Homo sapiens: one gene and its partners. The protein of the gene in region 3 interacts with the protein of the main gene of each other region in a biochemical or structural test. Each region holds a gene or a part of one and is shown on either strand. Other genes may lie near its edges.

Region 1 (3,754 bases), on a different chromosome or scaffold from region 3:
AAAAAGGGAATGTATAATCTACCTTATTTAGAAAATGATTGAAAAATGATCTTTCACTTAATTTTAGAAATCTAGATATGATATTTTTAGATGTATATGTACTCTTCTCTACATTTATATATATATATATTTTTATATCCCCCCCCCCCGTGTTTTTTTTTTTTTTTTTTTTTTTTTTGAGACAGAGTCAACCTCTGTCACCCAGGCTGGAGTGCAGTGGGGCACGATCTCAGCTCACTGCAACCTCCACCGCCCGGGTTCATGCCATTCTCCTGCCTCACCCTCCTGAGTAGCTGGGACTACATATGCCATGGAATACAGAATTTTGTTTAATTTGACTCATTATATTTTACCCTTTTTATTCAGAAAAAGAGAGAGCTCCCCTCCCAAAATAAAATAACTGCCATACTATCTTTCATTGCCCTTCAAAACTCACCCCACCAAAGAGGTTCATTAACAGAACAGTGCATATTCTTCCCGATTTTTTTTGTAGATTTTACAGACACAGACATCTATACCCAAAACCTTTTTTTTTTTTTTTTTTTTTCCCCCTGGAGATAGAATCTCGCTCTGTCACCCAGGCTGGAGTGTAGTGGTGCGATCTCTGCTCACTGCAGCCTTTGCCTCCCGGGTTCAAGCCATTCTCCTGCCTCAGCCTCCTGGGTAGGTGGGATTACAGGCATACGCCACCACGCCTGGCTAATGTTTCTGTATTTTTAGTAGAGATGGGGTTTCACCTTGTTGGTCAGGCTGGTCTCGAGCTCCTGACCTCGTGATCCGCCCGCCCCGGCCTCCCAAAGTGCTGGGGTTACAGGCGTGAGCCACCGCGCCTGGCCCCAAAATATTTTTTTTTAAGACAGAAGGATCATGGTGTAATTCTGGCTTGTGGCCGAGGCATTTTTAATAGTAGAGGTGAATGTTTCAAACATCCTACTTATCTAGATTTATGTCTGGATATGCTGCTGTGGGGTTTTGTGGTTTGTTTTCTCAAACCCAGGCAGTTTGCCAAACCTCAGCAAACAGCGCAAACCTATCTTGTTACCCTGTAGTCACTTCTCATCCTTGTCAGTATGTGTGGAGCATTTCACGCAATTGTGATCATTAAACTCATACTGGTTTCTGTTCTGCGTTTTTCAGTTAACATCAAATATTCTTCCTCTGTTTTTTTCTTGTTAGTCATTTTTCTTGTGTTGGATATTTGGGTTCCCACGTTTTTCACTATAAATTATGCTGCTTTGTATTGCTTTATCATGTCTCTTATGATTGGCTGAAATTTTACTGTGTTATAGAGGAGAGAGAATGTGTAGATACAGGAAGGCTTGAATAATATAGAGCCATCTGGAGAGACACAGTAAAGATGGAGTAGGAAGTGTTTTGAGTCAGTAAGGATTGGTGCTTGTCTGTTTTTTATCTGTGATGTGGAAATAACACCTATTTTCTTGCAATTTGTGCCGATTAGTGTTTATTTTTCTTACTATAAATCTTGGTTCCTGTTATTCTTTCCATAAAAGGCTTTCTACATTTTGAGAACCCACTGTGTGTCTGGCACTTCAGTTTGCCGGTGTTGGGGATATAGCAGTAAGGAAAACAAAGCCCCTGACCTCAAGGAGCATACATTAATTTAGTGCAGAAGCCTCCACACTTGCCTGGCTGTATACTCTGTCAGTAACACATGTGAGTGTGGACTCCATAAATACAAATGTTTAGAAATTTTGTGTGAGCTATTCTCAGTCTACATATTAAATATTAGTGAAACTTAATTTTTTATTTTGTATAAAAAATACAAATACAATAAAATATATAGAGAGACCTGTAAGCATTTCTGTTGTTGACTGTTGAATCTAAAGAGCACAATAGCAACATCTGTGCTAAACCAGCTATTACATATTGAATGTCCTTTGTATATATTCTTTATTATCATAGCTCCAGGTGCTCCTTCAGCTCCAAGGAGAGGGCGTGGGGGTCATCGGGGTGGCAGGGGAAGATTTGGTATTCGGCGAGATGGGCCAATGAAATTTGAGAAAGACTTTGACTTTGAAAGTGCAAATGCACAATTCAACAAGGAAGAGATTGACAGAGAGTTTCATAATAAACTTAAATTAAAAGGTAAGCTTTGATTTTTCTTTTCAGAAAATAATCTTATTTGATCTGTGAATTACAGATGTTTCTCAGATTAGGTGTTTTTATGTAATTCAGATTAGCTGTCTTGACTTTTCTGATATGTGCTTTTGTTCTTAGAAGATAAACTTGAGAAACAGGAGAAGCCTGTAAATGGTGAAGATAAAGGAGACTCAGGAGTTGATACCCAAAACAGTGAAGGAAATGCCGATGAAGAAGATCCACTTGGACCTAATTGCTATTATGACAAAACTAAATCCTTCTTTGATAATATTTCTTGTGATGACAATAGGTACAGTTTTTAAGCTGTTCTTTTATCTTATGATATTGATTGAAGTGTAAAATGGTTTCATGTAAATTCACGAGGTTTAATGAATACTACCATAATTGTTTTGTTTTGTTTTGAGACAGTCTTACTCTGTTACTCAGGCTGGAGAGCAGCAGTGCAGTCACAGCTCACTGTAGTCTCAAGCTCCTGACCTCAAGCAATCCTCCCATCTCAGCCTCAGTAAAGGGGACTACAGTTGTACACCACCCCACCCGGCTAATTTTTTTCATTTTTTTGTAGAGATGGGGGTCTCGCTATGTTGCCCAGGCTAATCGTGAACTCCTGGCCTCAAGATCAGCCTCCCAAAGTACTAGGATTACAGGCGTGAGCCACCACACCTGGCCATAATTGATTTTTTAATGTTTTATTTGCTAAAAGAAAATATATACTAAAGTTCTAAATTATTCATTCAAAAGAAGAAATAACCATATACTTTTGTTTAAGGATATATTCATATTTGAATATTAGCAATTAAAACAAGCATTTAGGTAATGTCTAAGTAGGACCTTTTTTTCACCCCTGTATGTTACAGTTCAAATGAAGCCAGAACCGAAGTGCTAATCTACTTTGAAGTTTGCTGGTACCATAAAACTGCCAGATTGTAGTAAATGTGGGTCCAGAAAATTGGCAAATTATTGAGAGGTTAATTAAAGGACCCAGTGTGAGGAACTAACAGTTCTAGAGGTTCTCCTGCCCAATCCAAATTGTCATTGTCCTTGTCCTTTTCCTGGCTGAAGTTTGGTGCCCTCTGGTGGCAGTTGTTTGCTTCAATATAAACATGGATGGACATAATTCTGAGTCCCACGATTGGCTGGATGACAGCAGCAATAATTCAGATACTTCTTGGGTTACTTGGTATCGGGTCCATAGATTGGGCCAGGAACATAATGGGGACCTAAGGGCCCACCTTCCATCTCCTAGCTTCCCAAGACAAGGCCTCCCTGTCTGACTTTACCTTCTTTTCCCTTGGGGCTGAGTGGAAAGCGAAGTCAATTACCAATCTCATTATATCTGAATTTCCATTATTTTGGAGCTGTTACTATGTTTATCAGGTGTATTTGCAAGAAACTAATGTCAGTCATGTGTTCACATGAAGTTTAACAGAATATTACAGGAACATATTGAACTCATATGCCATGAACAACTCGTGATAACTTAGATAAGATGCTTTTTTTTTTTTTTTTTTGAGATGGAGTTTCGCTCTTGTCACCCAGACTGTAGTGCAGTGGCTCGATCTCGACTCACTGCAACCTCCACCTCCCAGGTTCAGGTGATTCTCCTGCCTCAACCCCCCAAGTAGCTGGGATT
Region 2 (3,754 bases), on a different chromosome or scaffold from region 3:
ATTGTAAAAATGCCTGAAAGAACCCTGGACTAAAAAGCAGAAGAATAGTCATAATCCTAACTCTCCAACAGGGTAATAGTTATGCATCTCTGAGTCTCAGTTGACTTAACTGCCTGCTTACACCACATAGGTAACTGTATCGTTAACATTAAAGCACCACAGCTCTTGGCTCAGTGCTGGTAACCAGTAGACACTCAATTAAATAAACAGATAGAAAAACCTTACTTAGAAACATATTCAGACAAAATAAAGTAGAAAAAGTAATAAATATCTTAAAAAAAAAAACCCATCACCACTATTCTGGGCAAAAATAATATTTTCTGGCCGGGCGTGGTGGCTCATGCCTATAATCCCAGCATTTTGGGAGGCCGAGGCAGGCAGATCACAAGGTCAGGAGATCAAGACCATCCTGGCTAACACGGTGAAACCCCTTCTCTACCAAAAATACAAAAAAATTAGCCAGGCGTGGTGGCGGGTGCCTGTAGTCCCAGCTACTTGGGAGGCCGAGCCAGGAGAAGGGCATGAATCCGGGAGGCAGAGCTTGCATGAGCCTAGATCACACCACTGCACTCCAGCCTGGGCAACAGAGCAAGACTCCGTCTCAAAAAAAAGAAAATAATAATAGTAATAATAATACTTTCTTTGTGGAAAGAATTATCTGTATCTGTTCCCATCCTGTGTGTCCCAAACTAAGTTCTGTTGCTTAGGGACATGGGCAGCTGATAGTCCACAGCTGCAAAAAAACAAAGGCATAAACCTTATTTTAATAAACCGACAACAGAAATGTAGTGCTATTAAATGAAATAGTAAACTAAATTATATACAAAAGAATGTTTCCAGTTTCAGAGCCCAGTTTATTTATTTATTTTTTTGAGACACAGTCTCATTCTGTTGCCCAGGCTGGAGTACAGTGGCGCGATCTCAGCTCACTGCAACCTCCACCTCCCAGGTTCAAGTGATTACAGGCGCCTGCCACCAAGCCCGGCTAATTTTTTTCTGTATTTTTAGTAGATACGGGGTTTCACCATGTTGGCCTGGCTGGTCTCGAACTCCTGACCTCAAGTGATCTGCCCTCCTCGGCCTCCCAAAGTGCTGGGATTACAGGCATGAGCCACCACCTCTGGCCTCAGAGCCCAGTTTAAAAGGTTTGATCTTTCCAACAGACTCATTTATAATCATTAAGTAGAGACCATATTTTGTTTTGTAATTTGAAACTTCCTAAATAATGGATTGATAGAAACTAAAGTCACTCAATTTTAAATGTAATAACTATAATAAAACAGATATACTCACAGCTTGCATTTCTATACAGAAGAAATGGTTCATGGAGCTGAAATTCCAAATCTTTATTCACTGGTTCAACTAGATTGTGCATATTTAGTCGATTCACAATGGTAAAACCATGGTAAGGGGAAGCTGACCTTAGATTTAATAGAAGAAAAAAAAATATGTAGTTACCATTTAATCTGTAGAAATGTTATCTACTATGTACTTTATTTTCATTTCAAAAAAGAATGCATTAGAACATTATACAATATTATCAGCACTTACATCTGTAAACAAAAAATTTAAGTCAGATCATACTCCTCCTCTGACGAGAAGTCTCCAAAGACAGTCTCTCAGAGTAAAGGCCAAAGTCCTTACTGAGGCCACCAAGGCCCCACCTGATATACTCCCCACTCTGACTTCATTTCCTATGGCTCTTCTCCAGCTCCTACTCTCCAGCCACACCGGGCTCCTTGCCACTCTCTCTGCGTGTGTGCTTCTACCTAAAAACCTCTTCCTGGATTACTGCCCCAGAAGCTGCACAGCTATCTCATCTCCTCCAAGCCTTTGTTCAGATGTCACCTTTTTCATGAGGCCTACTTGAACTATCCTTTTTAATGCTCCCAAGCTCAATATCTCTAACCTTCCTCTTTTATCCATACCACTTATTTTTAGTATTTATTGTCCTCCCCCCACTAGGATGTAAGCCCCATGCAAATGGAGCTTTTGTCTTACTTTTTTCATACATATATCCCAAGATAGACACACAGTTGCTGAATGAAATATCATTCAATTGGATTGGCTATAATGGCTGCCCATCATTACAATAATGTTTTTCTTGCAACAAATAGATATTTACATAGCGCTCCTGAGTTAGACGGAAAATGCCTTGAATCCTACAATAGGAAACATCCTTGGTTCCCATATCAGAGGGATTCGGTACATGATCCTTTACTCTTCACATGTACCTAACACTTCACCGTTTTTCATTTGTTTCTCTACGATATACCCGGGGTGTTAACAGAACACTATTCTATAGATTAGGAGACAAGCTTTGAATGATAAGGCCTGTGCCTGAGGTCACACAAATAATGAGTTACAAATAATATAACTAGGATTCAGTTTCAGGTTTTTTGACTCCAAATCCAAGCTTCTACTATATGAAGTAATAGCTGCAAAGTGACAGTCTGACATCCTGGTATACCTTTATCCAAGGTACGCAAAATAGTCTCACATTTTCCAAACACAGTTTCTTGCGTCTCCTTTAATTAGAATCAGTACCATATAAGCCTCCGTGAATTGTATTAAATCCAGCCACCCACTACACTAAATCTCCTACTTTCTACAATCAGTGCCTCTGTATGATAACAATAAAGCCAGTAAAGTACTTTTACCAAATATCATAGAAACTAAGGTTCTAATAACAGAGTTTCTAGAGATTTATATTGCTAATGAAGAGTAATGAAGGGAGTGAGGGTAAAGATCCTTTCCTATTAATTTATTTATTTTTTATGAGAGGGAGTCTCGCTCTGTCACCCAGGCTGGAGTGCAGTGGCACGACCTCGGCTCACTGCAAGCTCCGCCTCCTGGGTTCACGATATTCTCCTGCCTCAGCCTCTCAAGTAGCTGGGACTACAGGTGCCTGCCACCATGCCCAGCTAATTTTTTGTATTTTTAGTAGAGACAGGGTTTCACCGTGTTAGCCAGGATGGTCTTGATCTCCTGACCTCGTGATCCGCCCACCTCGGCCTCCCAAAGTGCTGGGATTACAGGCGTGAGCCACTGCACCCGGCCGATCCCTTCCTTTTTAAAAGCAGAAAGATGAATAGCAGGGAACAAAGAAAGTGTCTAAGAAAAAAGAGCTTGGTGTACAAATATCAAAGAATTACACTTAAAAGAAGAAAAAAATGAGTGCATTTAGACGAGATCTCAAAGCTTTGTATCAAAATTTAGAAGAGTATTTGACAAATTCTTTTAAATTGGCATCAATGGAGAAAGGCAATCCTTATGAAGCAACTCAATACAAAAAAAAAAGGGAAAAGACCAGATATCAGTAATAACTCCTGCTGACTCCCTAAGCTTTAGAAAACAAGGGAAGGAACCTGCCCTTGTAAGAGTTAAGACCTTAGAGGAATCCAGGAAAACAAGTACCCCATGACTATCATATACTGTCAGTTGTCTTTAGGCCCCAAAAGCTGCCTAACAAAAAAGTTGCAATTTGCAAACCAATCTTAAAGATAATGAATTTTTGAATAAGTCAAAAATAAAAAATACGCCATCATGAATAATCCAAGCTTTCTAAAGAACTCTCAAATAAGACACTGTACATAATCCAGAACTTCTGTGGGTTGGGAAAGAGGACAGAACCAGTCATAAAAGACAACCACTCATGTAGTAATGAAAGAACAGAGGGATCGACCTCTCAATAACATTATTTTACAGAGCCAGTCTATGTATTGTCTTTTCCCCAAATATATATCTTTCTTTT
Region 3 (3,754 bases):
AAATGAGTTAAGTTCTTGATATCTTCGTCTACAGAAACTGTTTACTTACGAAATTTCATAATGTAGTTAACAAAAAAGTCATTTTTGTTACAGTTTTAAATTATTTTTTGCTAAATCAAATTCTGAAATTTAGATATTGTATCTTTTTCTAAAGGCAAACAGTAAAGAAAAAAAGAAAAATCAGCCAGCTGAGGGGCCATATTTAAAAATCCAGAGCAGTGCTGTCCAGTAAAACTTCTATAATAAAGGAAATATTTGTGTCTGTACTTCCAATTCCAATACACTATCCAGTAGCAACAGGTGCCTAACTGAGCACTTGAAATGTGGCTGTGATTGAGAAACTGACTTTTTATTTTAATTTTAACTGATTTAAATTGCCACATGTGGCTATTTACTGTATTAAACAGAGAATTAAACATGGAAAGGAAGGGAAGAATAAAATTTTACATTTGTATCATGCCTGACAGCTTCCAAAGTACTCATTTAAACATTTATCTTAATTTTCCTAACAACCTTGTAAGTTATGAATATGTACTATTATCCCTATTTTATTGCTAGAAAATTGAACCTGAGGGAGGTCAAAATGAAAGGTCCTTTGGCTACTAAGGAACAGTTTATTCTTAAACTCAGGACATTTAAAAGAACATTAAAACAAAATAAAGAAAGAGATTTCTTATTAAATTTGTGCAAGTTCTAGTTTTATACTCACCTGCCTCATTTTAGCATGAATATAGAAGCAAGAATAACCCAGTTGAGAAATCTTCTTGGCTAGCAATTCAACTCGCTGAGAGGAGTTACAGAAAATGATCGACTGGTTTATCTGAAGCTGAGCACAGAAAAAAATAAGTATGAGAAAAATAAAAAAAACCTTCATTTGGTTTGCCAAATCTTGAAAACACGAACCAGCAAAAAAGAAACATTAACATGGTCTAAAACTTAGAATCTCATGATATGAGAGAGATGGTAAATTGTAAAAATTGTAAATAATAGATGGAAGATAATAATATCTAAGATTTACCGTATTAGAGTATATTTCTTAAGGGCCACATAACTGTCAACAAGAGTAATACAATTGATTATCTGATTCAAAGTAGTTATGTTTTATGTGTTTCCATTTAAAAATATTTTATTTTATTTTTTTTTTGTGAAATGGAGTTTCACTCTTGTTGTCCAGGCTGGAGTGCAATGGTGCAATCTCAGCTCACTGCAACAGCTGCCTCCTGGGTTCAAACAATTCTCCAGCCTCAGCCTCTTGAGTAGCTGGGATTACAGGCACCCACCACAATGCCTGGCTAACTTTTGTATTTTTAGTAGAGACAGGGTTTCAGCCTGTTGGTCAGGCTGGTCTTGAACTCTTGACCTCAGGTGATCTGCCCACTTCGGCTTCCCAAAGTGCTGGGATTACAGGTATGAGCTACTGTGCCCAGCCAAGAATACCTTCTTTAATATACTCACAACCAATGCCACCAGCATTGGGCAGCACTTCAGCACCATGTGTAGGGGCCAATTAAAACTGTGAAATCAGCAACAAAAACTTGAAAAACATGGCAGACTGTGAAAAGGACCCTTGTTCACAGTATGAGAGCTAAACAAGAGGACAGAGATTGCTTTCTTCGACCTCAGCTGGGAATGTGCATGTCAGGTGACTTAAACTCTTTGCCACACTGTACACGTCCACAAATGACTGCTGAACTACCTTGAGTATTAATTCCGGAGTTACAAATAAATTCTAGTGACTAAGCAAATTCACAAATACAGAATATGTGAATAATGAGGATTAACCCTAGTTAAGGTCAAAGTATTTCAGAAACTATTCAAAAGTGTATCTGTGACTTGGTTAATCATTTAGTATCAACTTTAGGTCAACAACTAAACCTGCCTTTTAGGAAACACTATGAATTATTTTTTAATCTTTTTTTTTTTCTTCCCAAGACGGAGTCTTGCTCTGTCGCCCAGAGCTGGAGTGCAATGGTGCAATCTCAGCTCACTGCAGCCTCCGCCTCCTGGGTTCAAGCAATTCTCCTGCCTCGGCCTCCCAAGTAGCTGGGATTATGGGCACACGCCACCATGCCCAATTTTTTTGTATTTTGTAGTAGAGATGGGGTTTCACCATGTTGGCCAGGCTGGTCTCAAACTCCTGACCTCGTGATCTGCCTGCCTCAGCCTCCAAAGTGCTGGGAGGCATGAGCCACCGTGCCAAGCCAGAAACACTACGAACTTTTATACAGTGAAGACGGTGGGAAAATTGATGAAATCATCTGTTTTACTGGGACTCGAGAGATAATATTCAACAGCAGAAGCCTACTTCTTACCCTGGAGAAAAGTGTGTTGAGGCAGTGTACTTTTTGGCGCTCAGTTACATATGCGTAGTACTGGGTTACTCCCTTCAGAGTTAGTTCCTCCATCAGGTTAATCTCATAGGGTTTCTGCAAATGGGAATTCTGGGGGGGGAGCGGGAAAAAGATGAGTCGTCGTCTTAAATGAAAGCAGAGTTCATCTCAAATTCAAAATATACCCTATACGTTTCTGTCCGATAAACTCTTGCTGTAAGGGACGCAACTCTCTTCAAAACAAAATATATGATCTGTCATTACAGAATTTCCCCCCTGCCACCCTGAGACAAAATCTTGCTCTGTCACCCAGGCTGGAGTGTAGTGGCACGATCTCTGCTCCCTGCAACCTCCACCTCCCGGGTTCAAGTGATTCTCCTGCCTCGGCCTCCCGAGTAGCTGGGAATGCAGGCATGCACTGCCATAACAGACTAATTTTTGTATTTTTAGTAGAGACGGGGTTTCACCATGTTGCCCAGGCTGGTCTCGAACTCCTGACCTTGTGATCTGCCCGCCTCGGCCCCCCAAAGTGCTGGGATTACAGGCATGAGCCACCATGCCCGACCCGATAGAAATAAATTAAGATATAAGATCTCAAAAATGCAGCTAAGTTACTACAGGTTGAGTATTCCTTACCCAAAATGCTTAGGAACAGAAGTGTTTCAGGTTTTAAATTTTTTCTAATTTTGGAATATGTGCATTACACTTAGTGACTGAGCATCCTTAATTTGAAAATTCAAAATCCAAAGAACATTTCCTTTTAGCATCATGTTCGTGGCTCAAAAGGTTTCAAATTCTGCAGTATTTTGGATTTCAGTTTAGGATACTCAAGCTCTGTTTTGTATATAGAATAATACCGGAATCAATTCAGCTAGCACCAATGGCTATGTCATCATGACACCAAAAACTAAGTGAAAGATGAGGAATTTAATTAAGTTACTATTACAACCTTCTTAAAAAGTCAGTTAATTTACGTAAAACAAATCTTTAATTGATCAACTGAAGAAAGAGCCAAAGGCTTGAAATAATTAGCATAAAGTATATTCACAGATATGAAGATGTAATTACAAATAAAAGCATACTCAAAGGTCACAGGATGGCACTGATTCCAAGTACAGATTTATACTCACCATGAACTTCTGTACACTAAGAGGGAAAGTAGCGGAATATAGTAAAATCTGCCTGTTTTTAGGTAGCGTGAGAATAATATCCTCCATTATCTGCACAAAATCCTGTGACAGCAACTTATCTGCCTGCAGTAGAAAGAAAAGACAATTTTAAAAACAATAAAATAATGTCTAAGGTCTTGGTTAATACATGGTCAAAGAATAAGGCATCATCCAACAAAAGCATCCATGAAATGTTCCTGGTGGAAAACAATAAATTCTCTCCAACACTGCAGAGAGTCAAATATGCAGAAGGGG

The links.
Region 1: the proteins of DDX6 (region 3) and LSM14A are reported together in a solved structure, tested with the Homo sapiens proteins (one study listed by BioGRID).
Region 2: the proteins of DDX6 (region 3) and DCP1A form a complex in vitro, tested with the Homo sapiens proteins (one study listed by BioGRID).

Annotation. Positions count from the first base shown.
Region 1 is NC_000019.10:34,217,468-34,221,221, forward strand, and holds part of LSM14A (protein LSM14 homolog A), read left to right. Parts: intron 1-1,923; coding exon 1,924-2,106; intron 2,107-2,238; coding exon 2,239-2,410; intron 2,411-3,754. UniProt on the Homo sapiens protein: Essential for formation of P-bodies, cytoplasmic structures that provide storage sites for translationally inactive mRNAs and protect them from degradation. Acts as a repressor of mRNA translation. May play a role in mitotic spindle assembly.
Region 2 is NC_000003.12:53,340,851-53,344,604, forward strand, and holds part of DCP1A (mRNA-decapping enzyme 1A), read right to left. Parts: intron 1,422-3,754; coding exon 1,294-1,421; intron 1-1,293. UniProt on the Homo sapiens protein: Necessary for the degradation of mRNAs, both in normal mRNA turnover and in nonsense-mediated mRNA decay. Removes the 7-methyl guanine cap structure from mRNA molecules, yielding a 5'-phosphorylated mRNA fragment and 7m-GDP.
Region 3 is NC_000011.10:118,756,462-118,760,215, forward strand, and holds part of DDX6 (probable ATP-dependent RNA helicase DDX6), read right to left. Parts: intron 3,584-3,754; coding exon 3,461-3,583; intron 2,442-3,460; coding exon 2,313-2,441; intron 827-2,312; coding exon 710-826; intron 1-709.